Regions from separate parts of the Homo sapiens genome. Here region 1 is linked to region 2. Evidence: fine-mapped expression QTL. A gene starts in region 2. The other region holds a variant in brackets. All regions are shown on one strand. Distances are between the middles of the regions.

What was found. PIP is the estimated chance that this variant, and not a neighbour inherited with it, causes the effect.
Region 1: its variant is the best candidate, but not a certain one, in a credible set for the expression of TMEM209 in lung (TOPMed, PIP 0.74).

Annotation. Positions count from the first base shown.
Region 1 is chr7:130,227,886-130,232,274 of GRCh38, reverse strand. No RefSeq gene overlaps it. Among named protein-coding and RNA genes, the nearest start is that of SSMEM1, 22 kb to the right of the region's middle. The variant G/A (reference allele first, on the strand shown) is at 2,224.
Region 2 is chr7:130,202,641-130,207,024 of GRCh38, reverse strand. TMEM209 (transmembrane protein 209) reads left to right here and starts at 1,619. Exons shown (of 15, transcript NM_032842.4): 1 at 1,619-1,652; 2 at 2,915-3,051; 3 at 3,179-3,237; 4 at 4,362-4,384. The coding sequence starts at 1,650. It also overlaps a transcript of SSMEM1 not described here. RefSeq lists enhancers at 1,355-1,464, 1,525-1,704, 1,381-2,180 and a silencer at 2,842-3,136.

The DNA of each region.
Region 1 (4,389 bases), 25 kb before region 2:
CAGCTGTACCTCAGAGACTATGGTTGGATGTTGGAGAGAAGCAGCTTGACTTCAGAGGGACAGTCTGACAGTGTAATTTCAGAGAAGAATCCAGCCAGAGATGGCCAGACTCCAGGGGAAAATTACCTGCCCACCCCATCCCTTATTCAGCTCCCCTTCTCACTGAGAGTCACTTTCATCAGCAGTAAAATTCCCCACATTTACCATCCTTCAATTTGTTCATGTGACCTCGTTTCTCCTGGATGCTGGACAAGAATTCAGGAGCCAAGAGTGAGGACGTAAAAGGCTGTCACACTGACCCTTTATTCTCACTGGCGGAAGGCAGCCGCCTCATGCAAAAAGGCAGAGGGCCCTCTGAGTTGATAACACTTCAGCCATCCATGGATGGCAGAGCTAAAAGAGCACTGTAACACACCTTCTGGGTCTTCAGGGGTCGCAAGCACCCCCATAGACGCTGCCATGGGACCAGCAAGAAGTTGGCTCCTACTGGCCCCCCAAAGCACTTGCCCCAGCTCCTGCACCCATTCACCTGCACACCCCCTCCAGCAAGGGGTAGAATTCAGTGGGTCTGAGTGGAGTTCACTCCTGCTGGCACCAGAGTAGCCAGCTGACTCCAGTGCTCATGTTCTCCAGTTCCTGTCTCGTTCACCCATGCACTCCCTTCCACAAGGAGTTGGGAGCTGTGGGCTGAGTAAACAGGGCACCCCCTTCATGAGTCCTGCAAAGGAGTCAGGGAAATATCCTACTTCAATTGGATCGTGGGGGTGTATTTCCTCCTTGCTGTTCTCATGACAGTGAGTTCTCACAAGATCAGGTTGTTTAAAAGTATGTAGCACCTCCCACTTCACTCTCTTTCTCCTGCTCCAGGCATGTAAGACGTTCCTGCTTCCTCTTCGCCTTCCACCATGATTGAAAGTTTCCTGAGGCCTCCTCAGCCATGCTTCCTGTATAGCCAGCAGAACTGTGAGCCAATTAAACCTCTTTTCTTTATAAATTACCCAGTCTCAGGTATTTCTTTAATAGCAGCGCGAGAACGGACTAATACAGTGTCCGGAATTGGTGGGTTCTTGGTCTCACTGACTTCAAGAATGAAGCCGCGGATCCTCGTGGTGAGTGTTACAGCTCTTAAGGTGGCACGTCTGGAGTCTGTTCCTTCTGATGTTCGGATGTGTTAGGAGTTTCTTCCTTCTGGTGGGTTCGTGGTCTCGCTGTCTCAGGAGTGAAGCTGCAGACCTTCCCGATGAGTGTTACAGCTCTCAAGGCAGCGCGTCTGGAGTTGTTCGTTCCTTCTGGTGGGCTCATGGGCTCGCTGGCTTCAGGACAGAAGCTGCAGATCTTCATGGTGAGTGTTACAGCTCATAAAAGCAGTGTGGATCCGAAGAGTGAGCAGTAGCAAGATTTATCACAAAGAGCAAAAGAACAAAACTTCCACAGTGTGGAAGGGTACCCAAGCGTGTTGCCACTGCTGGCTCTGGCAGCCTGCTTTTATTGTCTTATCTGGCCCCACCCACATCCTGCTGATTGGTAGAGCCGAGTGGCCTGTTTTGTCAGGGCACTGATTGGTGCGTTTACAATCCCTGAGCTAGATACAAAGGTTCTCCACGTCCCCATCAGATTAGTTAGATACAGAGTTTCCACACACAGGTTCTCCAAAGCCCCACCAGAGCAGCTAGATACAGAGTGTTGATTGGTGCACTCACAAACCTTGAGCTAAACACAGGGTGCTGATTGGTGTATTTACAATCCCTGAGCTAGACGTAAAGACTCTCCACGTCCCCACCAGACTCAGGAGCCCAGCTGGCTTCACCTAGTGGATCCCGCACAGGGGCTGCAGGTGGAGCTGCCTGCTAGTCCCGCGCCGTGCGCTCGCACTCCTCAGCCCTTGGGTGGTCGATGGGACTGGGCGCCGTGGAGCAGGGGGTGGTGCTCGTTGGGGAGGCTCGGGCTGCACAGGAGACCATGGAGTGGGTGGGAGGCTCAGGCATGGCGGGCTGCAGGTCCCGAGCCCTGCCCCGCCGGGAGGCAGCTAAGGCTCGGTGAGAAATCGAGCGCAGCACCGGTGGGCTGGCACTGCTGGGGGACCCAGTACACCCTCCGCAGCCACTGGCCCAGGTGCTAAGTCTCTCATTGCCCAGAGCCGGCAGGGCCGGCCGGCTGCTCCGAGTGCAGGGCCCGCCAAGCCCACGCCCACCCGGAACTCCAGCTGGCCTGCAAGCGCCGCAC[G/A]CAGCCCCGGTTCCCGCTCGCGCCTCTCCCTCCACACCTACCTGCAAGTTGAGGGAGTGGGCTCCAGCCGTGGCCAGCCCAGAAAGGGGCTCCCACAGGGCAGTGGTGGGCTGAAGGGCTCCTCAAATGCCGCCAAAGTGGGAGCCCAGGCAGAGGAGGTGCCGAGAGAAAGCGAGGGCTCTGAGGACTGCCAGCACGCTGTCACCTCTCAATACGATCATAATCACCACACACGCAAAGCCATGGGCCCCCCCATCAAAGAAGCACGCATACTTTTTTCTTTAACAATTTAGGCATCATAGAGCACCTTCCAGGCAAAAGAAGCTGCTCTAGAAATTATAGAACATAAGAAGATGACTAAGACCCTGTATCAACTGCAAGTCACAGAAAAACCAACTTACAATAGGGATTATTTTGCCTAGCAACAAATCTAAAAGTAGGATGTTTCCAGAATTTGTTAATTCAGCAGCTCAGGACCTAGTCTTTTCCATATTTCCACACTGTCATACTCAGGCGAATGCCCCTATGGACACGAGCTGGCTGTCACACAGTTCCAGTCATCACGTGCAGACTTGCTAGCAACCACCAAAAGAAAAAGGACTATTTCTCTTCTCCACATGTCTTTTTAAAGAAAGACTGAACAAACTTTTTTCTCTGAATGCTCCCCCCAGCAAACTTCCCTTCCCAGAATGAGATTACATGCCCACCCTTGAGCCACTCATGGACCAGGAGAATGGCACCACCAGGCTTGGCTTAGACCAATCAGAACTTAACCGTAAATCATGTAAGAGAGCAGGAACAATGGAACAAAATGGAAGAAAGGAAAAGAATCAACATAGGCTACTTCAGACCCTTTCTGTATCTGAAGGGGTACAATCAGAGAAAAGAGACAAAAAGACGCTGACCCTAAGTGGCATTTCTCCAAGCCCTTTCGTCTCTTCCTCAATCCTCTGACCTGCCAGTCAGTCTTACTAACCCTGGCTGTAGACCCTTCCACTAGGACCTGGTTTTTATCTCTCCACTTCTCCTTTTGTGATTTACACTAATTAGTAGCAGAGTTAGCTCTCAGCCTGGTGTTCTCACTGCTAAATCAAGATTTGAACACGTGAAACTTCATGGTGACAGAGGGCCCTAATAAACAAAGACAATTAGAGACAACAGGCCCCTGCAATAAGGCGGCTTGAGGAACAGCTTGTGAAAAAGGCCGAGCTCAGAAGATGAAAGAACTGGAAAACAGTATTGCTCAGGATCATAAAATTTTTGTTTAAAAAAAGGATTTCATGCATTATCCCTTTGTGCACTGAGTGGAAATTTGCAATAAGAAATAACGAGAAAGGACAAGTATAATTTATTTATAATGCATCTTTCTCTTGCCAACTTCCCTGGGCCTCTCCAATAACTGCCAGTCTACATACAAAAAAGGTCAGCTTTCTATTTTCATCTGAGGTTTTGTTAAATTTAGATGGTAAGTGCAACTCTTCTTTACACCAAAAAGTGCCTATTATTTAAGATTCAGTTGGTATGTAATAGATATTTGGGGGGGAAAAAAGCATTTTCTTCCTTTTGTCTTCCTCTAATAGTATAGGAATGTATGGGCCTGATTTATATTTCCCCCACCCTCCCACCCACCTCTTTGACCTCTATCTTTTCCTGACAGATAGAGAATATCCAGGTGGCCTGGTACTTGGAAACTTGTCAGATGTTATTCAAAGCAATAAAAAACACATCATGCAAGTCTTCGGCATATTGTTACAAGGAAACCCTGTTTAGAATCCACTAATTGGGAATTTGTGATAATTTGAGGAAGGGTTTGCTGAAGTTAACCTTTGTACTATCTATGAAAAAAAAAGTTCACTGAAGTTCTGAATAGTAGTGTAAACAAGATTGGAAGGGGAATAATTATCTGCTTAAAAGAACCAGTTGTTTTGAAAAGCTTTAGAAGTATTCTTTTACATACAAACAGGGTAATTATGATTTAAACAAAGGCTGGCCTGTTTCTTAGGCTTCTTTGAAATGTCAATTACAAATAACTCTTGTCTATTCACCAAGCCAAAACCCACCCCTGTGTACCAGGCAACAGTTGGTTAGCTTGCTTCCACTTTTTGTATTTGAAAATAATAAACCTGAAGTTCTTTTAAAGTAGTATAATTTAATTCAAGCTTTTCA
Region 2 (4,384 bases):
GGTGGGAAACCGGTATTCTAATTTTTTTTTTTTTTTTTTTTAGCAGGGTCTCACTCTGTCGCCCAGACTGGAATGCAGTGGCACCATCTTGGCTCACCGCAACCTCGGCTTCCCAGGCTCAAGTGATTCTCCTGCCTCAGCCTCCAGAGTAATTGGGATTACAGGCGCATGCCACCACGCCCTACTAATTTTTTGTCTTTTTAGTAGAGACAGGGTTTCAGCGTCTTGGCCAGGCTGGTCTCCATCTCCTGACCTCGTGATCCGCCCGCCTCGGCCTCCCAAAGTGTTGGGATTACAGGCGTGAGCCACCGCGCCCGGCCGGTATTCTAATTTTGATTGCACCTTGAGCCCTTTCACTTTGAACAATTTTCCAGTTAGTTCATCTCTAAATCTAAAACTAGAGCAAAACAACATTGCTGCTAAAGCAATCTAAAAATGATAAAACTTAACAGCTCTTCAAGAGCACAGCATACCTGCCGATTTTCATTAATATACAATACCACGTGGTATTAATCTTAGGATCATTTTAGGAAAAACTTTGGCCATTGGACATACATGATGTAATCCACTAGCTTACTGTGGCATGGCTTAATGTTTTTATTAGGAGGCACACTTCAGAACAAGTCCCCAGGCCCTGGGTTTCTGGCTGTGGACTCTAACGCGTCATCTCCTCCAGGAAGCTCGCGAGAGCTGGGGCTGGGCTGGATGCGCCTCCTTGGGGAGCACTGCATCCACCTCACCTGCCACCGAAATGCATCTGTGGGCCTCCGCTGGGGTTGAGCTCCTCTGGGTAATAACCAGGAAGGTCTTATTTTCTATATCCGTGCGCCTGGCTCAGCGGCACACTTGTAGGTATTTGTGCTAAATAAAACAAAGCTCAACCTTTTCCTCAGGATGAGCAGCTCTTCCAAAAAATACATACGAAAATGTGTTATTATTTTTAACCTCAAAACCACTAGCAACTTCAATAAAACAAATTTTGGGTGTGCTTGTTATTGCTGCACCCTATTAAACAGATTAAGAATTTAGGCCGGGCGCGGTGGGCCACGCCTGTAATCCCAAAAGGCGGTGGGAGGCCAGCAGGCGTTTGGGAGGCTGAGGCGGGCGGATCCCTTGAGGTTAGGAAATCGAGACCAGACTGGCCAACATGGCGAAACCCTGTCTCTACCAAAAAAAAAATTACATGGGGTCAGGACTCTTGACATAGATACTTTAACACAGGGGAAAGAAATGCTTTGTCACTGATGGTGTCTGGCCACTTTATCACGCCACTCTATCCTACGGTGAGCCGCCCTACTTAATCAGTTTACACATGTGAGTCCATAAATGCCCTAGGGAAGCTAAAATTATATTAATAGATACAAAATTCAGCTTGTTACAATTATTACTTTTTACTGCGGGTTCAGAGCCTGGTCTGAATTTTGCTGCTTAGCTTTCTCCCGCAGCTGAGTGGGAGCCGCAAAACCGAGACCTGTTTCCCTGGTAACGCTCCGAGCGCCTGGGCCTGCGACCCCTCCCTTTCTCGCGAGAAGAGACTACCTAGTTCTTCCGGTAACTTTAGAGCCGCTTGCCGGTGGCCTCCCGCTTGAGCTTGGCTTTGCGCATGCCCAGAGAGAGTGGCGCGAGCCTGCGTTTTCCGGCCAGAGGACATGGTGCGTTTTCGGGGTCGTGTTTGTGCTTCCTGTCTTGGAATCTACGCGGGTTGTGGGAGTTCCGCGCCTGCTGATCTGTCCTGGGTTCAGCCAAGGGGGATGTGGCTAGGCGTTCCGCCTCTCTAGGGGAAGGGAAGAAAGAAGCAATAGGGTTGCTGAAGTTCGTGCCCAGGAGCCGGGGAGGGAAGCTCTGGACTGGGAAATTGGGACGCGGGGGCTGAGTGGCGCGAAAGCTATTGCTCTGTCCTCTGTGGGATACGACTGCTTGTCGCTGGAACAAGTTTTGCACGGTCTGTAAGAGTTGAGCCTAGCTGAAGAAAGGAGGAATTATAAATCCCAAATGTGGACCAAAACAATGCACGTTTTCCCCTCTCTCCCTCTTACTCCGCTCACCACCCCATCATAAGTACGTGCCCTTCTAAAACTTGGATCCTTGTCCTTTATCCACACACAAAAGGGAGAGCCCTGGAGTACAGCTGTCCAAGTGCAGAGTTGTTGAGATAGTAATGGCGTCTGCATGAGGATGTACAACAGTCTTTATGACTTACAGCAGATATGGAATATAGTCTCCCAAAACTTGACATTTTGAGTTTCTGAAGTTAGCCTTTTGCCTAGTCCGTGTAACATACCCCAAAGACAAAATACAAAGTATTTCTAGACATAACCCTTAAATTACAAAATAAGACATTTTTATGTATTGGAAGTATTAAATTGTTCTTAAATAACCAGCCACGGCTGGGCGCGGTGGCTCACGCCTGTAATCCCAACACTTTGGGAGGCCGAGGCGGGTGGATCACAAGGTCAGGAGTTCGAGACCAGCCTGGCCAAAATGTTGAAATCCCGTCTCTACTAAAAATACAAAAATCAGTCGGACGCGGTGGCGGGCGTCTGTAATCCCAGCTACTCGGGAGTCTGAGGCAGGAGAATCGCTTGAACCCGGGAGGCGGAGGTTGCAGTGAGTCGAGATCGCGCCACTGCATTCTAGCCTGGGAGACAGCAAGACTCCGTCTCAAAACAAATAAATAGATAAATAACCAGCCACTTCTCTGTTGATTACACTGTGATGCCAATTAAGTTACATATAATTTTGGGTTCCCTTTTCATATACTGATATTAAAATGGAAGAAGTTTTGATAAAACATTTTAAAGATGAGAGAAGGTATATGCGGTTTCAGTTACCTTTATAAGGGATGCAAAATTTGGTTTTTAAATGGAGCAATAGTTTCTTCTGGTTAATTCCTGTGCTTTTTGTTTTTTCATAGATGCAGGGGGAGGCACACCCTAGTGCTTCCCTTATTGACAGAACCATCAAGATGAGAAAAGAAACAGAGGCTAGGAAAGTGGTCTTAGCCTGGGGACTCCTAAATGTATCTATGGCTGGAATGATATATACTGAAATGTAAGTGAATCAGTCCAAAAAAAGTGAAACTTTAAGAAGCCAGTGGCTGGTTCCACAGGTTTTTGTGTTTGTTTTTGATTTTTGGTGTTTTTAGGTTCACTGGAAAGCCTTTCTAATTTTTTTTCAGGACTGGAAAATTGATTAGTTCATACTACAATGTGACATACTGGCCCCTCTGGTATATTGGTAAGTAAGTAATTTTCACTGTAACTTACATTTACCAATAAAAAACTGCCTTCAGGTTTAATTCAGCTTAGTATACATTTCCTTATTCAACAAGTATTTGACTGCCTGCTGGGTTGTAAAAACTGGGAATACAGCAGAAAGGGAGCAAGGTAAATCCCTGCTATTATGAAAGGAACATTCTGTTAGACAATCAGATTAATAACACTTCAGGTAATTATGAGTTCTGTGAAGAAAAATAAGTTTAGAGGTTAGTGAGATTTGTTTTTATTACTCTCCTGAAATGCGCTTTCTGTGTCTCTACCTTTTTACTTTTCAAGACCAGCCCAGATTTCTGCTCCATTGATGCCTTCCTCAGTTTTCACATTCTTTCCTCTCTTCTTGTCTGCTCTTCCATAGTCATTGGGTATAAAGAGTCTTTATGGATGTTAAAGTAAATTTCATAGTCTATACACATTAAAGTCTTTCACAGGGAGATAGTGTGCCAAGTTGGGAGAGCAAGGGATTTGCAATCAGCAGACCTCAGTTAGAATCATGGCTTCACTAACTAACTCTCTACTCTTGTAAGAGTCACTTGGCTTCTGAATAATGTTGGTTTATATTTAAAATGAAGGTGAAAATATTTATTGTACAGGGTTGCTAGGATTAGTGCTATTTTGAAACTCACTAGTAAATTACCTACACATAATTTTTTTTTTTTTTGAGAAGGAGTCTCACTCTGTCACCCAGGCTGGAGTACAGTGGCACAATCTCAGCTCACTGCAACCTCCACCTCCCAGGTTCAAGCAATTCTCCTGCCTCAGCCTCCCAAGTAGCTGAGACTACAGGTGTGCGTCACCACACCTGGCTAATTTTTATATTTTTAGTAGAGATGGGGTTTCACTATGTTGGCCAGGCTGGTCTCAAACTCCCGACCTCAGGTGATCCACTCGCCTCAGCCTCCCAGAGTGCTGCAATTATGGGTGTGAGCCACCATGCCCAGCCACCCTACACATAACATTCATTAAATTATAGTTTTTATGAGGAATAAGAAGGTAATTTTAGTTTGCTAAGTATAGAGGGTTTTTGTGTTCTCCAATAGATGCCCTCCTCACCCCCCTTATTAAAAAAAAATTGTTCTCTTCCAGAGCTTGCCCTTGCATCTCTCTTC